Homo sapiens: one gene and its partners. The protein of the gene in region 2 purifies or fractionates together with the protein of the main gene of each other region. This does not show direct contact. Each region holds a gene or a part of one and is shown on either strand. Other genes may lie near its edges.

Region 1 (3,658 bases), on a different chromosome or scaffold from region 2:
TTTGTTTCCCCTTTGTAGCTGGGAACTTCTGGGGTAGGACGTTGTCTGCTATCTCCAGTTCCACAGACCCAACCAGTTACGATGGTTTTGGACCATTTATGCCGGGATTCGACATCATTCCCTATAATGATCTGCCCGCACTGGAGGTATTTCACTAGCATCATAGTGCTCAGCTCATTGGGAATAGAAATTAAAGCTGTTGAATATATGAATTAAAAGTACATTATATGACAGTAATGCAAATTTATCTCACTTAAGTTAAGCCACGATTTCAGACTTGTTCTCAGTAGCGATCAATTAGTTTCCAACACAGAGAAAGCTGAGTTCTGTGATCTACTCTGTACAGCCAGCCAACTACTTTAGATGTGTGTCCTTCATAACAGTTAACTTCGGTATACCTGCTTACTTACTAGGTAAAATTTCTGTTTTTAGCTAGCTTTTTAAAATTATGAAGTGGAAGACTTTTTAAGAAAGCCTTAAGTTGGCTTTAAAAGGCTATTTACTTTAGATTTAATTTAAGTAATTAATTTCTTTTTTTGAGACAGAGTCTCACTCTGTCACCTAGGCTGGAGCGCAGTGGCACAATCTCGTCTCACTGCAAACTCCGCTTCCTGGGTTCAAGTGATCCTCCTGCCTCAGCCTCCCAAGTAGCTGGAACCACAGGCACACACCACCACACCCAACTAACTTTTCTATTTTCTTTAGAGACATGGTTTCGCCACGTTGGCCAGGCTGGTCTCGAACACTTGACCTCAAGTGATCTGCCCACCTTGGCCTCCCAAGGTGCTGGGGTGACAGGCATGAGCCACTGTGCCCAGCCAGATTTAATTTAGGTACATTTGTGTATTAGAAAACAGGCTGGGCATGGTGGTACATGCCTGTAATCCCAGTGCTTTGGGAGGCCAGGGCTGGAGGAGCACTTTGTGTTCAGGAGTTCAAGACCAGCCTGGGCAGCATAGGGAGAGCCTGTCTCTACAAAAAAATTTAAAAATCAAGGTCAGGCGCGGTGACTCACGCCTGTAATCGCAGCACTTTGGGAGGCCGAGGCAGGCAGATTGCTTGAGGTCAGGAGTCGAGACCAGCCTGGCCAACAGTGAAACCAGAGACAGTGGTGAAACCCTGTCTCTACTAAAAATACAAAAAAAAATTAGCTGGGCGTGGTGCTGTGCGCCTGTAATCCCAGCTACTTGGGAGGCTGAGGCAGGAGAATTGCTGGAACCCAGGAGGCAGAGGCTGCAGTAAGCCAAGATCGTGCCACTGCACTCCAGCCTGGGTGACAGAGTGAGACTCCATCTCCAAAAAAAAAAAAATGAAAATAAATAAAAAATTAGCTGGGCATGGTGCGCAGCTACTTGGCAGGCTGAGGCAGGAGGATCACCTTGAGCCCAGGAGTTCGAGACTTTAGTGGGCCATGTTTGTGCTGCTATACTCCAGCCTGGGCAACAGAATGAGGCAAAAAAGGAAATGTAGGCTAGTGTAACTTAAAGGTGAGGTATTTGGAGCTTCTGATAATTGAATGGCAGTGAATTTGAAGTCAGAATTTACGTTAGTGCGAAAACTTGATTTGCATACTTAATGTAAAATATGTGTGGTATATGCTTTCAGATTTCCAAGTGTGGTAGAAAGGAAGTTATTAAAACTTATTCCTGTTTCTTCTGTAGCGTGCTCTTCAGGATCCAAATGTGGCTGCGTTCATGGTAGAACCAATTCAGGGTGAAGCAGGCGTTGTTGTTCCGGATCCAGGTTACCTAATGGGAGTGCGAGAGCTCTGCACCAGGCACCAGGTTGTCACGTTAGCTGTTTGTGATAAGGCTGAATGTCGAGTTAGCTGTTTGTGATGAGGCTGAATGGGCTCCTCCCCAACTCCTCTCTGAATTCTGCTGATTGGATAAATGCAAAGATTAAATTACTTTCCACTAGAGGGCGATGGCATTCTAAGAGCTTAAGTACTTCCTAGTGCTTAGAAACCTGCACAGAAGCAGACTTTTTCCTGTCTCTGGCCTTGTCCTGGGCCCTGTGCAGAACTGCAGACCTGGTCTTAACAGCGTTTCCTTCCTCGCTGCTCTAAGAGCCTTTCACTCTGAGCCCCCGCAAGCCCTTTGTTGTATTCTCTCCTCCTTTCCCCCAGGGCTAATAGTAGTATATTTTGTTTACCATTTGAGAGTTTCTGTCACATATTAAATGCTTGTGGAATAAACAAATGAATTAATTTGTTCCCAGAGGGTAGTTAGGTCCAGAAAAGCCATACAAAACCCTCACCTTTGCATCAGCACCTTTTCACTATGTAGAGCAGGGCAGAATGGGCCTCTAGGGAGATAGTGGCCTGACAAAGGAAATAGTTGGTGAGTCTACAAGATTCTTATAGGATACTCTTGAAATTGTGTGCAGTTAAAACATTTTTACAAATTTGAGGGCACATCAGAATTACACATTTATTGTTGGTGGGGGGACAGTGAAATAAGGATGGCTATTTTCCCTGTGGAAACGAAAGTGATCACTAATAGGGGTATTTTTTTTCCCCAATAGGTTCTCTTTATTGCTGATGAAATACAGACAGGATTGGCCAGAACTGGTAGATGGCTGGCTGTTGATTATGAAAATGTCAGACCTGATATAGTCCTCCTTGGAAAGGCCCTTTCTGGGGGCTTATACCCTGTAAGTTTCATGTTCCCCCTCTTTCCATTTCCTACTCTTGTAAAATATACCCCTAAAGTATTTATACATCAACTGATTGTGACAACAATGCTTTCAGATTGTTTGATTTTACCAAGTGTGCTGCAGGCCACCCGGAATATCTGTAATAAAAACATTTAAGGGACCAGTGTGTGACCCACTTACTTATTGCCTGAAGAATTGAGTGTGCCTTGGAATTTGCTATGACATTGGATTTGGGTGGAAACAGTTTACCCCCAAAGGACTCCTGTAGACTCCTGTCCTTTTTTCCAGTGTTCAGAAACATGGCATATTACTAATTGTTTAAAACCATGACTGGTGAACAAAGAGACTGAGAAAAATTAATGTTTGTTGTAGTTCATGTCTTGGGTTTGCCTTTCAGAGCCAGTAATTGTTACTACATCAGAGGTCTCTGAAGTATAGATGTTTTTGCTGAATAGACAAAACTTTTGCTAAAAAGAATGCTCAGCTTTGTTTTTTAAGCATTTAAACAAAGCATTTCATCTCGACGTTGGAAGTGATTGTGAAATTATATCATTGCAGAAATAGCTTTTCTCTTTTAGTTGCAAAATTATATTGTTTTGTGCCATTGAAGTGTACCTAAAGTATTTGTAATGTTTTAGGGTATGACTAAGTCATTAGGTTGTTACTGGTAGTTAGGTTGGCAGATGTAAACTCTTTCGTTGAAGTCATTAAGTATCAGTTTCTTGGCCGGGTGTGGTGGCTTATGCCTGCAATCCCAGCACTTTGGGAGGCCGAGGCAGGCAGATCACCTGAGGTCATGAGTTCGAGACCAGCCTGGCCAACATGGTGAAACTATATCTCTACTAAAACTACAAAATAAATAAATAAATAAATAACATGTGTGGTGTGGTGGTGGGCACCTGTAATCCTAGCTACTTGGGAGGCTGAGGCAGGAGAATTGCTTGAGTCCAGGAGGCAGAGATTGCAGTGAGCTGAGATCACGCCACTGCACTCAAGCCTG
Region 2 (3,658 bases):
TGTGTTATCTCTAGGAAAACAGTTCCACCAGGAATTCTTCGTCTCGCTTTTAGACTTAAAGTTTCCCTGAATATGGGTCACAGGAACCAGCTGAATCTCCTCATGGCTAGTTATTTTTATTAAATAACAAAAACAGCCTCTTAAAGGAGGAGAAATGCTAGCACTCACCATTCTGGACATCTTGAGAGCCCAGTAAAATGATGAGTTGGACTGAAGTGTTCAATAAACATGAGATTGTGGAAATAATCTCATTTCTTAAGACAAACCAGTAGTTGAGAATAATGATTGCATTATGAAGGGCACGTTATAGGGTCAGGCTCTGCCACGCTCTAGCTAGGTGGCCTTGGGAAAGCTCTTTTTTTTTTAACAAAGTAAAATGGGGAAATGATGGCCATTTTTTTGGATTGTTATGAGGGCTAGCTCAGAAACCGCGTGTGAAACATAACACAATACTTTGTTCAGAGAAGATACTCAATTCTAATGGTAAATAGAATTGCTGTTACTAGCTTTTTATTCAACTACACATAAATTGAATTGCATGAATTGTTCTTTTAGTAGTCACTACGTTGTTTATATAAACACTACGTTGTTTATATATTTCACTTTATAATGAAATAAATGACAAGGCATGTATTTTTTTTTTCTTTTTAGGTTTATTGAAGTCAAAATGTCCAAAAAAATCAGTGGCGGTTCTGTGGTAGAGATGCAAGGAGATGAAATGACACGAATCATTTGGGAATTGATTAAAGAGAAACTCATTTTTCCCTACGTGGAATTGGATCTACATAGGTAAATGAGTTACCCCTCCGTGTAGCAAACTCAGAAAGGATAATCTGGCTGGGCATGGTGGTGCACACGTGAAGTCCCAGCTACTTAGGAGGCAGAGGCAGGAGGATCCCTCAAGACCAGGAATTCAAGTCCAGCCTGGGCAACAGAGTGAGACCCCATCACTTTAAAAAAAAAAGGAAAAAAAAGGGAAGGAGAAACAGGAAAAAAAAAAAGAATATAATCTGAATTATTTTGAGGTGAAGTTAGCTTTTTTTATATAGATATAGCTGTGTTTTGTGAATAAAGTTTGTTTTAAGCCTAAATATATTCAGATGAATCTTCTAATTTTAACATACTGCTAGAAAAACTGGATTTATCATCTAAAAGTCAAGAATTATAAGGGAAAGAATGATTTTCAGATTCTTCTAACCTTCTGTTTCCTGTGAAGGTTTTATTTGTAATAAAACAGTGGCTAAGAATAGTACAATGTATTGAGAAAAGGGAAATAAGAGAGGATGTAAGAAACAGTAAACTAAATGCAGTTAACACAATTTTGTCATTTCAAACTCAATTTTCTATCACTTTACTTAGTCAATGGACCTGTTTCCTTTTCATGCCTCACCTTTTGCCCTTTTCATACAATTGTAGTGCAGAAAGAATTCATGATGTTTCTTAGTTGAACCCCTCCTTTCCAGCAAAATTCCCTTAAATCCTGTGTCCCTTTGCCCTGTGTGTAAAGTGCCTGGGGACAGATGCAAAAGTCTATGTAATTCTCTCATTTTTTTCGCTGTGTTTTTCATAAACTTGCTTCTGTTCTTTGTACCTTTAGGTAGAGATAGAATTTTTAAAAGGGTAAAGTGGCTGAAGACTGGCATAGAAAAATATTGAGCAACACGTTTCAGCCAAACTATTGGCAACTCTAAGTGTGTTTGCCTCAGCCCAGAATTAGTCATCAAAATTTGTCCTAAGGACCTGTTTGAGTGGAGACATTTAATTCACATAATGTCATTAAACATACTTTTTAATTGTTCTAAACCTAAGCTGCTGATGTCTATATTGAAATCATGATAAGATATAAATACTTGCAGAAGTCAACCAAACATAAGAAATTAGGCATAAAAACATCTTCCAACTAGGTTAAAAAAAAAAAGCATCTTAGGAACTCCTGTTTCAGGACTTTACATGACAGTAGGTGAACTGGCAGGGTTCTTTTCCTTATAATGGCTGCAACTAAAGATGCTTTGAGCCTCTTTAGTGTGGAATCATGAGGAGTTTTAAAGGGGAGTCACTATGACTAGGAGGAAAAAATTTGGTGGCTGCAGACTAGATAATTTTTGGAGGCTCAAACAAGTTTTAAATTTTTCCAAAATTCCTATTATTATCACTGACTGGTTCTTTTTCAGGAGAATGGAGCAGGTAGTTTGTTTTATGTAGGCTGGACAGTGGTCTGGGCAATTTGTTCCTTCCTTTCTTATCTTCTTAGAAATGTTAAGAAGACAAGCAAAAAATCTAATAATTTGCTGATAGATTCTCCTTATGAGAAATGGTTCCTAGGAACTTGAAAACTACTGATCATACTTCCTGTTGGAGTTGGGATTGGATCAACATTTCCTATGCAAGAAGATAACAAAGGACATGACTTTGTTAGATTTATATGAATTATCTAAAGTCGAAGCAGTTGGAAGTTATTTTTATTTGGAAATATGTCAAGATTACTATCTCTTTGTTTGCATCATGAGTTGGGTAGGAGATCTAAGAAAGGAAGATAAGGGAACCAAAAAGAAATCTAGAGGCAGGTTTTAAGAGCTGAAAAACCTTTTAAATCCTTGGAGAACAGAATAAACAAAACATTATTTTGTTTTCTTGCTTTTTAACAAACTATTGCATGCTTCAAATAAAGCTTTGCAGTCATTTTCTATGCTCCCTGGACAACTAACATTCTTTCAGCTCTGAATGACCTGCAATCTTTGTGTTGGTGTATATTAAGCTATTACTCTCTGGTATGTAGAAAACCATTGATGGATTCCTTTACTTACCCAATAAATTGTAGGCTTGTTTCCAGAGCAAACACTTGCTCAAGAATTACAGAAGGAATTAGCTGGGCATGGTGGTGCATGCCTGTAGTCCCCGCTACTGGGGAGGCTGAGGCGGGGGAATCACTTGAACCCAGGAAGGCAGAGGTTGAGTGAGCCAAGATCGTGCCACTGCACTCCAGCCTGGGCAACAAAACGAGACTCATCTAAAAAAAAAAAAAAAAGGGAAAGGCTCATTTTATGACTAACTGGCATTAATGAAGTAGTCATTCGCATTTTTGGCATCAACTGTCACATCTTTACCTCCCACCACTTCAACGTCAAAATACAAAAAATCCTTTAACCCCTCCCACCCCCTTTTATTTTTAAAGAGCAATATTTACTAAGGGAAAAAGGTGGTCCTTAGACTTACACTTATTATACTAATTATATGGAGAGAAACCAGGCCATTATTGCCTCTATCTGGTGAAAAACAGGAGGCAAAGGGCAGAGTTTGATGGTTTCCATTCATTTTCCTGATAGACAGCTTCCCATTACAAGAGGAGGGGCAGCCCAGCAGTCTAGCCTCTCTTAGTTCTCTTTGTAGTTGGCACCCATCTTCTGTGTTTAGGGTGTGCCAGTGCTAAAACTTGGCAGATTTTGGTGTACTCAGAGCCTTCGCTTTCTGCATAATGAGCTCTATATGCCATCACTGCAGTTGTAGGTTATAACTATCCATTTGTCTGAAAAACTTTGCTTCTAATTTTTCTCTTTCAAGCTATGATTTAGGCATAGAGAATCGTGATGCCACCAACGACCAAGTCACCAAGGATGCTGCAGAAGCTATAAAGAAGCATAATGTTGGCGTCAAATGTGCC
Region 3 (2,833 bases), on a different chromosome or scaffold from region 2:
GGTAAGAACTGTGGTCTAAAAGAACTCCCACCCACTGAACCCTACATCAACTGTATTAAATTTTACTATGAGACAAGGAGAATTTCTGCTCTTTTCTGGTGCTGCCCCAGCTTCTCCCTTATACAAATCAGCAAATCTATCTTCAAATCACAGACAAAGCCAGCAGGTAGCATGCTTATTACTCAGAACAATAGGTATAGTGCATGCTTTGGCAGTGGAAAACAAAGAATTCAATCAAAAATGATTAATAATCAAAGAGGAGGGGCCAGGTGCGGTGGCTCACACCTGTAATCCCATTACTTTGGGAGGCCGAGGCAGGAGGATCACTTGAGGTCAGCAGTTCACAACCAGCCTGGCCAACATGGTGAAACCCCATCTCTACTAAAAATACAAAAAATTGAGGTGGGTATGGTGGCACATGCCTGTAATCTCAGTTACTTGGGAGGCTGAGGCATGAGAATCACTTGAACCCAGGAGGCAGAGGTTGCAATGAGCTGAGATTGCTCCACTGCACTCCAGCCTGGGTGATGGAGTCAGACTCTGTCTCAAAAAATATAATAACAATAATAATAATAATAAAAGAGGAACCAACTGTGAATCTATATAGGACAGTATAAGGAAAAGAGAAAGGTACAAGGAAAAACAAGTGTTAGAGAATATTCGCCCAAAAAAAATGTTGCCATGGAGCAAATAAAATTAGTGCTATTTCAGATTTAAAACCTTTAAAATGAGAAAGCAGAGATTTTACGAATTCAGGGAAGATAGAGTAAGATATTATAAGAAGATCAAATGGGAGCTATCAGAGTTCAGGTAGGAAATTGAAAAGAAAAAATAAAGCTATTGGAAATTATGGTGACATTATTAATAGAAACACCACAAAGAACACTAAATACTTCTGTAAGGACATTAAGGATGGAGATAAGTGAGCAAAAGGAAGTAGAAAGGAACAAATAATTTTTAAAATATTAGGCAGAAAAATTATTGATGCAGAGGAAAAATAAAATATGTGGAGTTGCCAGAAAAAAATAAGAGCAGAACAAATGGAACCTGCATATAATAATAATTGTCACACAATTATTAACACTGAGATATACCTCGCTTGATATATTGGGCTTCAAAGACAATTCCTTTGGTCACCTAGACAGTAAGATCAAGGCCTCCAGAGGGGCCAGAAGAGGAGGATCAGTATGGACCCAGACTCTTCTTACATCAGCAGTCAATATTGGCAGATAGTGTGGAAGTAGCTGGAAGTTTCTAGGGAAAGTGGACACACCTAACTCCACCTCTTAGAAAGACTAAAAATCAAAGAATGACAAAAACATACCAAGAAAATAGAAATTGAAAGAAAGCAGTTTGAATTCAGAGCAAAATAAAAGTGATAAAAGTAAATAAATTTAAGGCAAAAATAGCACTTTATAATATTATGGGTAAGATCCTTAGTAGTTGTTAAACTTATAAAAGTTGTCAAACTTATTTCATAGTAAGGGAAATGAAAAATAGAACTGCAAAGAAATTTTATCTCTTAGATTGGAAACAACCAAAACAACTAAAAGTTTCATAAAACACTCTCACAAATTGAGAGTGGGAGTATAATTTGTAAAATCTCTATGGTGGTTAGTTTGAAAATTTCTGTTCAGATGTGATTTCCCATACCCTTTGATCCAACAATTCTACCTCTACAAGTGTTTTCTTGTGGATTTATTTGCACATTTCGAATGACTTATATTCAAGGATTTTCACTGAGGCATCATTTGTAATAGCAAAATATTGTAAACAACAAAATTATTCACCAGTGGGGGCTGCTTGAATAAATGATGCTACATTCAGATCAACCTAAATGCCCATCAATGCTGTCATTGGATAAAGAAAATGTGGTACATATACACCATGGACTACTATGCAGCCATAAAAAAGAATGAAGTCATGTCTTTTGCAGGAACATGGGTGGAGCTGGAGCCTATTATCCTTGGCAAACTAACACAGGAACAGAAAACCAAATATCACATGTTCTCTCTTATAAGTGGAGCCAAAAATAATGAGAACTCATGAACACAAAGAAGGGAACAACAGACACTGGGGCCTCCTTGAGGGTGGAGGGTGGGAGGAGGGAGAAGAGCAGAAAAGATAACTGTTGGGTGCTGTGCTCTTAATACCTGGGTGATGAAATGATCTGTACAACAAACCCCTGTGACATGAGTCTACCTATGTAACAAATCTTCACATGTACCCCCAAACCTAAAATAAAAGTTAAAAATAAATAAACAAGAACAATAAAAAATATACAATTTTAAAAAGAAAGATGGATGAAAATCTCTGGAAAAATATATAATGAAATCCCAGTGTTGTCTCTGGAGAGAAAAACTGAGTGGCTGAGGAAGATAGGTGGGAAGCTGACTTACTTTAAAACAAATATTTTTAAATGCTCTCAACCTAAAAGTTTCAAGAACTTTTTTCTAAACTATTTCAGAGTAAGTTGTCAACTTAATTACTGAGGATGCTCCGATCACCCCCATATACTTTCTTGTGTATTCTTCATAAACAAGACATTCTCCTCCCAAACCACAATATAACCCTCAAAATCATGAAGTTAACCTTGATACTCCATCTAATCCTCAGATCTGATTTAAATGTCATTCATTGTCCCAATAATGTCCTTTTTATAATAATTAATTAATTCAGGCTAGAATCATGCATTGCATTTAGTTGTCATGTCTCCTTCAAGCTAGAATGGTTTCTCAGTTTTCTTTGACTTTCATGATCTTGATACTTTTGAAAATTATCAATGAATTATTTTTAAGAAAGTACCTCAATTTAAGTTTGATGTTTCCTCATG

The links.
Region 1: the proteins of IDH1 (region 2) and OAT fractionate together in Homo sapiens (co-fractionation; one large-scale study listed by BioGRID). This does not show direct contact.
Region 3: the proteins of IDH1 (region 2) and KYAT3 fractionate together in Homo sapiens (co-fractionation; one large-scale study listed by BioGRID). This does not show direct contact.

What each region holds. Positions count from the first base shown.
Region 1 is NC_000010.11:124,401,924-124,405,581, reverse strand, and holds part of OAT (ornithine aminotransferase, mitochondrial isoform 1 precursor), read left to right. Parts: intron 1-18; coding exon 19-146; intron 147-1,661; coding exon 1,662-1,784; intron 1,785-2,526; coding exon 2,527-2,655; intron 2,656-3,658. UniProt on the Homo sapiens protein: Catalyzes the reversible interconversion of L-ornithine and 2-oxoglutarate to L-glutamate semialdehyde and L-glutamate.
Region 2 is NC_000002.12:208,248,561-208,252,218, reverse strand, and holds part of IDH1 (isocitrate dehydrogenase [NADP] cytoplasmic), read left to right. Parts: intron 1-651; 5' UTR 652-667; coding exon 668-789; intron 790-3,558; coding exon 3,559-3,658. UniProt on the Homo sapiens protein: Catalyzes the NADP(+)-dependent oxidative decarboxylation of isocitrate (D-threo-isocitrate) to 2-ketoglutarate (2-oxoglutarate), which is required by other enzymes such as the phytanoyl-CoA dioxygenase.
Region 3 is NC_000001.11:88,937,802-88,940,634, reverse strand, and holds part of KYAT3 (kynurenine--oxoglutarate transaminase 3), read left to right. Parts: intron 1-2,833. UniProt on the Homo sapiens protein: Catalyzes the irreversible transamination of the L-tryptophan metabolite L-kynurenine to form kynurenic acid (KA), an intermediate in the tryptophan catabolic pathway which is also a broad spectrum antagonist of the three ionotropic excitatory amino acid receptors among others.